Linked DNA regions of Homo sapiens: regions 2, 3 and 4 are each linked to region 1. The links come from fine-mapping of genetic effects on gene expression. A gene starts in region 1. Each other region holds a variant in brackets. All regions are shown on one strand. Distances are between the middles of the regions.

Region 1 (2,687 bases):
GACCCTGACTGAGCCTCTGTGTCGACAGGCTTCAGGGCCATACTCCTTCCCCCTAGCTCTTCTGTCTTCTGTGGCCTTCTGTCTGCAGCTCTAGGATTCAGTGATGTCCTGCTGGGCTGGGGTGGGAATTCAGGGGTGGGATACCAGGTCCCCTGAGTCCTGTCTGTTTTCCCAACGCACCCCAACTGGTGAGGCTCTGCCTTCCCCTTGGTCTGATTTCCCTGGGGCTGGGTGTCACCCACTGTTTTGCAGGTCATCTCTCTGCCATCGGGAGGCAGCATCGAGCAACCCCGTGCTGGGGCATCAGGCAAGACCAGAGCTCAAATCCAGGCTGCCCACTTCTCACGTGTAAATGTGGATAGCAGCAGTTTGTCTTACACAAGGCTGAAGTGAGGGTAAAAGAGACTGTGTGTGTAAAGTTCCTAGCTCAATGCCTGGCACAGGTTAGAGCAGGTCTTTCTCTCCTCTGCCTGGGCTGGGGTGAGTGGTCTGGGGGGACCCTCTTTGTGTCACCCAGTGGAGCACTGTGCACAGTATGGCCGCCAGCCCCTGCAGTGGGGAGAGCACGGGGTGGGGAGGTCCTCCCACACTCTCCCTCTGACCCTGCTCAGCCTCCTCAGCAACGAGAGGCAAATGGCAAGGCTGAGAACTGGCTTTGGAAAGAAGAGAAGGGCTTATAAGTCAAAGGTGGAGGTTACATAGAGGGAAGGAGGGGACCATGAGGACCCTCAGGGGTCTGAGCACTGGACTTGGAGTCCTCTAGACCAGTGCTCCAATCCCAGCTCTGCCATCCCAGCCCTGCAATCTTAGGCAACTCGCTTTGCCTCAGTTTCTTCATATATAAAATGGGGGCAAGGGGACCTGCCCTGAGGTGCTATGAGTGTGCCAGGTGCTGGATCTAAAGGGGTGCACACAGTAGATGCTAAGTAAGTGCTCCTCAGGGGTGGAGAGGAGGGAAGGGAGGCATCCAGTTACCGTAGTCCAGGCCCTTCTGGGAGATCCTGACCACGACGCCAGGGTTGACGGCCGCTGTCACGGCGGTGCCTATGGCGACCAGCACCATCAGGGACGCCCATCTCGGCGCGTTGCAAGGGCCCCTGGCCATGTTCTCTCTCATCCTCCAGAGCTGCCAAAACCTCAAGGCCTTGAGGTTGAACCAGGGAGCTATAAAAGAGTCGGCTGGGGAAATGCAAGTCAGTAGAATGTGGAAAGGAGGAAGGAACCTGGTGAGGGTGGGAAAGAGGGAGGGCCGCTGTGGTTTTCCATTGTGGTTAGGGCCCCACAGGCAGGGAGAAGTGCAGCCTGGGAGGCTCGCATGTCCATGTATGCATGCGTGTGTGTGCGCGGGCGTGCGTGTGTGTATGTGTGTGTGTAGATTGGTTCCCCTCCCTAGGCACCCCATTCCCCGCTCTGTGTCCCCACCCAAATGCCCCCATCTACAGACTCCCTTGAAGGTGGGTGGCACAGACATAAGGATTCATATTTTTCTTTCTACTTTTGATTTCTTTTGTATTTTTGATAGTAAAACATTTAAGAAAACAGATGCTTTCGTGTTTTCTTGTCCTGAGAGGCAGTAGTGGTAATGATTCAATGCTCACATTTTAGAGTCTAGTATCTTGGCTATGGTTTTAAATCTTAGCCCTGTCATTCTCTAGTGGTCCGACCTCAGGCAAGCCCTTTAACCTCTCTGAACCTCGGTTTTCTCTTCTGCAGAAGAGAAATACATAGTACTGCTCCCTCTCTGGATTGTGGAGAAGATAAAATGAGCTTAAAACCACGTAAAGCATTTAGCATACTGCCCGTGCAAAATAAATATCCAAATGCTAGCTATTAATGTTATCCTGATTTTAAAAGTAACCCATGTTTATTGGCCAAAATTTGAGAAAGAAACAAGAGAATACAAATTACATATAACTCCCTCTTCCGGAGACAAGCCAAAGTGTATTTTAGAGTATTTCTTTTCTCCCTCTTTTGTTGGTAAGCATAGGTAGAGAGTCCATGTTTGTTTGTTAACCAATATGGGATCACCTGGTCAGTTTGGTAAAGTTCCCTTTTTTCGAGAAACAATAGGTAGCAAATGTTCTTCTCCAGCATTAAATATTTCATTGCTTCCTCATCCCACAGCTTTCTTATCCAAGCTTCTGTTTTTGTACATTTTTACTCCTTCCTTTGGCAGATGTAGAACCTGAGGCTTCACCAGGGGAAGCGTTCTTCCCACGGTCACTCAGCAAGCTGCTAGCAGAGCGAGGATCAAAACACAGCCCTCCAGATGCATCCCACACCAGCCCGAATCCCTCAGCGCCTTGGGAGTTGGGGGGATGTAGACACTCCCCACCGCCAACCCAGCTTTCCAGACAGGTCCCTGTCTGCTCAGCCCCTGCCCCTCCCTCTGCAGCAGCCTCAGGCCTCGGGTGGGCAGGAACCCCACTGGGCAGCCTGCTCCGTCTCCATGGTGATGAGAGGAGGGGCGGGGCTGCAGAAGGGGCAGCCAGCTTCTCTCCCGCTGGGTCCTCATCAGCCCCCTAGTGCCCTGTCTCCCCGACTTTGGACTTTATGAAAGTCTAATGAAGTCCGCTGAGCTCGGAGGACGTGAGACCTTCTGAAGTTTTCTTCTTTTTTTCTTAAAAGTTTTTTTCTTCCTCTCTTCGTTTGGTTCTAAAAGAGTCTCCCCTCCTGCTTCCATCTGC
Region 2 (2,687 bases), 23 kb before region 1:
GCTGACGCCTCCCAGCCATGAGGACTGGCCATATCCCAGAACACAGGACTGTCACTGCTAGAACCGGGACATTTATGGGTAAGCTGAGATGGTTGGTCACCTACAATGTGTGACCTCGAGCAAGTCACTTTTTCTCTGAGCATGAGTTTCATGGTCTGCAAAATGGGGATACTGTGGCCATCGCACACTCTTTGAGGTTTTAATGTGATGAGCCAACAGGAAAACAACAATGCAGTGCTTCTGTATATCACAGGACCACTGTCATCCCACAGACACCAAGGACAGAGGGGCAGCCCCCTCCTCCTCTCACAGGCCCACTTACCTATCCAGCTTGAGCTCTCCAACAAGCCTGTTGGACTCGGCGCTGACCTCCATGGAACCAGTTGTGTGCTGCCAAAACAACAACCCAGGGTGAAGTGCCCTGACCCAGGCACCTGATTGCAAGGCCTCCAAACCAAGAAGGGTCAGCTTCACAACGGCTCAGCAGGGCAGCATACACTGTGGGGTCAGGCCCACAGAGCCAGAGGAGTGGGGAGACTTCCCTTGGCTTTGTGGCTGTTGAGTCCTAAACTGTCAATTTCCATTTTCTCTCTCTACTTCCAGGACCATTTCAGAGTTCTTGGGCCACTCTCGGAGAGGCTGCATAAGACAGGCCAGCCCCATTCTCACAATCCCTCATTCATTAATTCATTCAAAAAATATGAGAAGGAAGTCCCCGGTTCCCACCTCAGCTGTTCTGTGCAGTCTGTGTGGTCTTGGATGACCTCTTAGGACCTATTCTGTCTGCAAAGTGGGAATAACAGGTCTCAGCTTGGGAGACCCAGTAGACCTGCCTAAGGCCTCTAAGTGCTTCCTGGTGCAGAGAGTGTCTGAACCACACCCTCAGTGGCCATATGGGTGCCACCAAATCTTTGCGGAGTGATGGAGTGATCAAAGGGATGAATGCATAAATCAACAATGGAGTGAAAACTGAGGCAAATGAAGGATTAAAAAATATGTGAATTGAAGAATAACAAAGATATGCATGAATGAATAAATGATGGACGAATAAATGAACAAATATACAAATGAATGATCAATTGAACAAAGGTATAAGTAAATGAATAATTGAATAAATGAGTGCAAGTGGGAATCAGAAAATGTATAACATATTTCAAGTCAACAATCTAATAAATAACTGAATGAATTAATAATTGAATGAATGAACAAATACACAAATGCATAATTGAATGACTAAAGATATAA[A/G]TGGATGAATTGGAACAGTACACATATTTCAAGCCAACATGGAATGAATAATTGAATGAATGAGAAATTGACTGAATGAATAATTGAATGAATAAGTAAACAAACGCACTAGTGAATGGCTGGGTGAATGAATACCTCCAGGAGTCGGCACCATTGAGTACAGTGACTCAAGCCTCAGGCTCCGGAGTGACACAGTCCAGGTTTGAATCCAGACAGGATTCACATGGTCTCCTGACTCCAAAGACAGTGCTGTTGGGACTGTCTGGGGCTCCTCATCTGTCCAACCCAGGAACTGCTTACCATGCCAATCAGGAAGAGGGAAGCCAGGGAGGAGTTGGGGAGGACGGCAAAGGCCTGGACATCCACGGCAGGGTAGAAGGTAAGGCCGGTGGGCTGCACAGACAGGTGTGGCGGGGTGGAGGCTGAGACATGGATCTGTATCTTCATGTTGGGAAACTTCTTGGCCACCTGCAGCCCCCAGTGGAGACAATCAACGAAAGGAGGAGTTTCTGTTAAAATGTTTCTGAATCCTACCTTGGCCTGCCCCTACTTAAATACCTTCAATGTCTTCCCATTGCTCTTAGAATAAATCCTAAGATTGCACAGTCTGCCAGCTGGCACCCTGCCAACCTCACCACATGTACCTCTGCCTCTTGTCTTCCATCTCTGGCCACATGGAACTCTTTCTGTGCCCCAAACTCAACAAGCTCTCTTGCCATCTAAAATCCTTTGCACTCTCTGTTCCCCATTGTTAGATACTTTTCCTCGCATTCTTCTCTCGGCTCTTTCCCTTCCTTCAGGTCTCTGCAGATGTTACTTTCTCAGACAGCAGTAGTGGCTTCAAGGGGGAACTAAGGAGGGCCTTTGTGACCTTCTTCCCCTTTCTCTTAGTCTCTGATCTTCCCCCAGGTAAACCCACAGTCTGAGTAAAAATAATGTGATTGTTATGCAAATGAAGCTTCAAGACAACACTCCTGGACACCCCTAGCAGCCACACCTCTCCCCCCAACCAGAGCTTCTCTGTATAGAAATTTCTGGGGTTTCACCACCAGAGACACTGCTATGAACAGAATGTGTCCTCCCAAATTCATATGTTGAAACCCTAATTCCCAGTGTGGCTGCATTTGGAGAAGGGCCTCTAACGAAGTAACTGAGGTTAAGTGAGTTCATAACAGTTGGGCCCTGATCTGATAGAATTAGTGTCCTTATAAGAAAAGACACCAGAGAGCTCTCTCCCACCCGCCACCATGCATGCATTGAGAAAAGGCCCTGTGAGGACACAAGAAGGAGGCAGTCTACAAGCCAGGAAGAGAGCCCTCACTAGAAACCAAATCTGCTGACACCTTAACCTTGAACTTCCAGTCTCGAGAGCTATGAGAAATAAATTCTGTTGTTTATGCCACCAGGTCTGTGGCATTTTGTTATGGTAGCCTGAGCAGATA
Region 3 (2,687 bases), 53 kb after region 1:
TAGCTCCTTGTGTGTCTAGAACAATCATCTGAGTGAGGTAGGATAGGAATCAGAATCCCATCTATGTGCAGAAGGGGAAACTGAGGCACATCAGGGAAAGATAGTTTAACTCACTGTTTCCCTGAGGTTAGGATGCAGACCACAGTGATGACATAGACAACTGGCAAGGGGCCTCTCTCTGGAGTATGGAGCTCTTTTGTCTCTTGATCTGGGTAAGTGGTTACAGGGGCTCATACATAGGTTAAAAAGGCATCAACCTGTGCCCTTTAAATTTGTTTATTTTACTTGACGAAAATGATACTTAAGATTATAATGGGGCCAGGCACAGTGTCTCATGCCTGTAATCTCAGCACTTCAGGAGGCCGAGGAGGGCGGATCACCTGAGGTCAGGAGTTCAAGACCAGCTTGGCCAACATGGTGAAACTGCATCTCTACTAAAACTACAAAAATTAGCTGGGCGCGGTGGTGGGTGCCTATAATCCCAGCTACATGGGAGGCTGAAGCAGAAGAATCACTTGAGCCCGGGAGGCGGAGGTTGCAGTGAGCCAAGATTGCATCACTGTACTCCAGCCTGGGTGACAAAGTGAGACTCTGTCTCAAAAAAAAAAAAAAAAGACTATAATAGCAGTGGCTCATTGCAAAGACATTGAAATAGAAGTATACACATCCCCCCACCCCCACTCCATTGCCCAGGTATAACCACTGTGAGCAGGTAGTTTTCTATGTCCCTCTGCACTACAAGGTTCCCTGGGTCAGTCCAGAAGGTCATGAGCATAGTATAGGGGCCAGGAATGCGGGCCTGGTTAGACACAAGGTATGTCACAGACTGGAACTAAATGACATGGAACCATGTGATGGACAATCAGTCCCTTTCAAATTCCCTGAGCTTCTCCAGACCTAAGGAGAAAGACTTCCTCTGGGGATAAGATGTCTTTAACATCTCTCTGATGCATTTGGGAGAAAGAGAGGGAGAAGACCCCCTTAGGCTCCAAGAGGTGACCAGATGTCCCTAGAATTTAATGGTACTATTCGTTTTCATTGTTTATTTTTATTTTTTAAAGTAGTTTATTTTCACAGAAATACAAACAGTAAACAAAAAATATACTTTATATAAGTAATATATTTAAATATATTTTAATAAATGAAATAATACAAAAACCATCCAATGCATCATCAGTTTATTTTTGGAGTTACATTCGATTTATGCCAGTTTACAGTTATTT[C/T]TCCATTTATAGTGATGATGTAATAACAGTTATAATATTGCCACAGATCCACCCAAACATGGTGATTCCTACCTTCTTCTTCTTGCCCTTGCCCCCACATGTGCCTGGTAACATGGCCGCCCCCACATATCCCCACCTGTGTAGAACATCATGGCGCCCTGCATTTGCATATTAAAAAGCTAGGGTAGTAGGGCCAGTTTTTTCGTGGGCTACATGAGTGACATGCCTGGTCAAACCAATCCCTTGAGCCCTATGCAAATCAGACACCATCTCCTCCAACCTCCTCGTAGAAGCAGCCACTTTTCTGCAGCACACGGGGTTTTCTCTTTGTTAGAATCCTCCTCCCTCTGTCTCCATACAGGGGAACTGTTTTCTTCTTCCTTCTTTCTTTCTTGCCTATTAAACTTTCTGCTCCTTAAAACCACACACACACACACACACACACAGACACACACACACACACACACACACCATAATAATAATAATAATAATAATATGACCACAGAAATTGTAGTGATGGCTCTTACTTAATGAGCACCTACTAAATTCTAGTCCTGTGCAGAGAATTCGCATGTATTACCTCAATACACCCAATCTTGATCAACTCCTTAAGGTGGGTGTAATTACAGTCTCCATTTTACAGATGAGGAAACTGAGGCACAACGAGTTAAATCTGACTTGCCAGGTACACACAACCAGTAAGTGACAGAACCAGAGTTTGAACCCGGGCAGTCTGGCTGCACTTGCATAACCACTGTGATGATACAGAGTCTCATTGAAAAACACAATTATGTAAGTTTTGAAAAAGTGAGTGGATTTGAAGAAAAATAGTAAGTGCTAATAGTATGCATGGTATGAGGAGATGCTAAACATCATAAAAGTCATCATGAATGATTAAATTTCCAAAACCAAAACAAATCAAGCTTAGCCCAGCTCAATATGCTTTCTTTACACAAGGAAAGAGGCCCAGAGAGGGAAAGGACCTACTCAAGGCTGCACAGAGAGGCTGGAGCCAACGTCTCAACAGAGAGGCCAGAGCCCAAGTCTCAGGAGAGAGGAGGGAGGGAGTGGGGAGGGCACCTGGCAGGGGAAGGGACTGCTCCCAGGATTGCATGGGGTGGGAAATGTCAGAGTTTGACCATGATTGGTGGGGGTTGGGGGGGGATTAGAAGAGGACACCGGGCCAGATGAGACCTTCCCTGTTCTGCCAAGTTGAAGGCCCCTCCCTCCACCTCAGTGTAAAACCTCCTGGGTACATGTGATTTCAGCACCAGATGCCTGTCGGTCCATCATCCTCTCTGAGCTCACTGCCACGGCAGTGCCCGGACCCTGTTTCCATCACAATGGGCTGTGGACACTCATTCATTCACTCATTCATTCTACAAATAGTGATGGCGGTCCCCTGCGCCCAGCACTGTGTGGGCTACGGGTGGGAGGGAGCCTCAGTCCTCTGTAAAAGCCTCC
Region 4 (2,687 bases), 33 kb before region 1:
TACCATCACCAATCTGGTTGAAGCTTGAATAACAACACATTCCTAATTTGTGCTCATCCCTTGCCCTCTTGTCCTTCTGATGCTTTCAGAAGTCACAATAAAACATTTTAAAAACTAAATCTGGTCATGTGGTCCCCCACTCCACCGTCTGCATCGAACTCCTCCAGTGTGTTGTTGCTCATCCTTATGGTCTCAGAGCACATGTCAGCAGTGTAGAAAGGCCTTCCAGGACTCCTCAATCAATCTGAAGTACAATCCATAAAACCCCATCTCATGGGCTGAGATAGCCCCCTCTGATGTCCCATGGCAGGAAATGGCCCAAAGCCCCCAAGGAAACTCCCCAGAATTCCAAAGACAGTCTGGGTTGGTGATCTGGCTTCCACACTAGAGCTGGGAGAGTCATGGGGAAGTGCTAATTGCACCCAAAGATGTGACTGAAGCAGAAAACCCCAATGGACTCTGTCACCTGGCCCATTGTTCTGCTTTTGGGGACAATGGCTGGGCAGGAGAACATGGATGAAACGGGGAGCCCAAGTGTGGGGCAGGGAAGGTGGGCTGTGCAGGCTAGCTTTTCAACAGCGACACCGTGTGGTAGTGACGGGAGCAACAGTCCTAGTGGACAGGTGACTACACAGGACAATGGGCTGTGCAGAATGACGGGTCAACAGCCACACCATGTGGTAGTGGAAAGAACAACAGCATAGTGGACTGACCCACTCTCCAGACCCTCTCTGTGTGACATTAGGAATTTGGACTAAGAAAATCACAAGGACATTTGGAACAATGAGACTTTCTGTTAATGGAGGCTGTGGGGATTCCAGAGATTAATTATAGAAATAAAAAGAGATGATTGTATCTGTGCTGTAAACTGGCACTGCCGGCCACATTGGTTACAGCCAATGAATAATAAATAAATGAACATAAAACAAGAAACAATACCAGCACACAGAATCCACATGAAAAAAACCAGAAGTTTTTTTTCATGAAGCACAAATGGAAATTTCTTGGTTACAATTGAAACACGATTCCTGGAGGAAATATCTCTGCAGCCTTAGCCCTTGAAAGAAGCTCATAATCCCTAAAATACACACCATGCACTTTTCCAATGAATAATGTTTCCTCGTGTTTAGATCATTTCTGAATCTGAGTCGAAGAAGTTTGCAAGGGGCTCTTGGTTAAGATCTGGAGAGGATTCCCTGGGGAAAGGCAGCCGGTGCCCCACAGCCCATCAGGAACAGGTG[T/C]GGCTGACAGCCCCCGGCACCCCTGGTGCCTTCATTTATAGACAACGTCTGCACCGAACAGCAGGAAGTTCTAGGGAGAGATGAGAATGTTGTCACCAGTTGAAGATGCACCCCTTGTTTGTGAGTGTGGAGCTACTGGAGTTTTAAGAAGGACATTTTGGGAGCCTGCCTCTTAGGAAGGAGAAAGGCAGGGCCAGTGGGGGTCACTCAGTGTTTCGCTGCCCGGATCTACACATCCACAGCTGCCAACATCTGCGAATCTGTCAGCAGCTTCCCTGGAAGCTGCCTCCTTCTTAGACACGGAGACCCCCCGGGCTGTTTTAGAGGCCTTCATTTGTCGTCCCTGCCTCATGGCAGCTCAAGGGAGTGCTTGTTCCAATCAAGGCTGCAAAACCACTTCTCTCTGCTTCTTTGTGTCCTTCACTCAGGATTTTTAGAAATGAAGAAATTAAATTGTGCCATGGGTCATTTTTTTTAAAACACGAACTTGGTAAAATGTGAGGAATATGCGGTATGTGTTTCCTCTGCACTCTTGGTTATTTTTCTACAGTCTCTCAGCCCCATTAATTAGCTCCCTGGTCTAAAGAATTGAGGATTGATGGCCTGGACATTGGGGGAAAGGGAGAGGGAGGGATCTGGGTGATGCGAGGCTCCCCAGGAGGGCCACAAGTTATCAGGAAAGCCTTTGACCAAGGTGAGAAATGCAAGCTGGGTGACGGTTTCGCTGCGGAGGTGACAGCTTTGTGGGGACATGCTGGGTTTAAGAGGCCTCAGGGTGGAGACATTGAGGGAGCCTGCGAATGCACAAGCTGAGAGTTTGGAAAAAATAAAAAGACTGGAAGCATGTCTGGGACATTGGGTGGCACGCAGGTGGCAGCTAAGCCTGAAGAGGTTGACAAGAGTGACGAAGGCTTGCCAATGGCGGGGGAAGAGAAGAGGCCTGGGGAGGGGTCCTGGAGATCTCCAGCTTGCAGAGAAGGGGCAGGAGAACAAGCAGAGGAGGTGGCAGGTAGACAACCAAGAGCTAGGGGAGTGCTGGAAACTAAGAGAAGAAAGCATGCCCAGGAAGCGCATCAGTGTCAAATGCAGACGGAAGTCAGCCTGGGCGAAAGCCACGAAGGAGACTTCTGTGCTGTGTCTAAATCTGCCAGACGTCGACCACATGTTATACCCCACAGTGCCTAGTATGATGCTGGGTGCAAAAGGTGTGCAACATATATTCGTTAAATATTTAAATGCACCTTAAAAAAGAGGCTCTTTGGCCCACAAATGCATTTCATTTTTGCCGAGTGTAGCGTGGGAACGATGCAGTGATGGTTCAAAGCCGGGAGCCTGGCTTTGAATCTGGACTTCATTTAACACTGTGTGGCTTTTCTGAACCTTGGTCTTTCTTTGTTTTTTAACAGCACCCACATCCCAGAGTTGTTGTAAGGGTAGAAGGCGCTT

Direction of the effects. Alleles are on the strand shown, and positions count from the first base shown. SD is a standard deviation of normalised expression in the study named. Not every link is listed here.
For the expression in testis of the gene that starts at base 1,173 in region 1, T is the low allele of the variant in region 4 and C is the other (small effect, 0.27 SD a copy in GTEx).

What was found.
Region 2: its variant is fine-mapped to the expression of BPI in whole blood (TOPMed, PIP 0.90).
Region 3: its variant is fine-mapped to the expression of BPI in whole blood (TOPMed, PIP above 0.99).
Region 4: its variant is fine-mapped to the expression of BPI in testis (GTEx, PIP 0.95).

What each region holds. Positions count from the first base shown.
Region 1 is chr20:38,302,642-38,305,328 of GRCh38, reverse strand. It overlaps BPI (bactericidal permeability increasing protein), which reads right to left and starts at 1,173. Exons shown (of 15, transcript NM_001725.3): 1 at 976-1,173. The coding sequence starts at 1,105.
Region 2 is chr20:38,325,291-38,327,977 of GRCh38, reverse strand. BPI (bactericidal permeability increasing protein) reads right to left here. Exons shown (of 15, transcript NM_001725.3): 10 at 1,546-1,713; 11 at 323-390. Among named protein-coding and RNA genes, the nearest start is that of LBP, 20 kb to the left of the region's middle. The variant A/G (reference allele first, on the strand shown) is at 1,246.
Region 3 is chr20:38,249,495-38,252,181 of GRCh38, reverse strand. The region is part of intron 1 of KIAA1755; the gene reads left to right. It overlaps LOC124904900 (a long non-coding RNA gene), which reads right to left and starts at 219. Exons shown (of 3, transcript XR_007067581.1): 1 at 1-219. The variant C/T (reference allele first, on the strand shown) is at 1,224.
Region 4 is chr20:38,335,770-38,338,456 of GRCh38, reverse strand. BPI (bactericidal permeability increasing protein) reads right to left here. Exons shown (of 15, transcript NM_001725.3): 15 at 952-1,311. The coding sequence ends at 1,273. Among named protein-coding and RNA genes, the nearest start is that of LBP, 9.4 kb to the left of the region's middle. The variant T/C (reference allele first, on the strand shown) is at 1,242.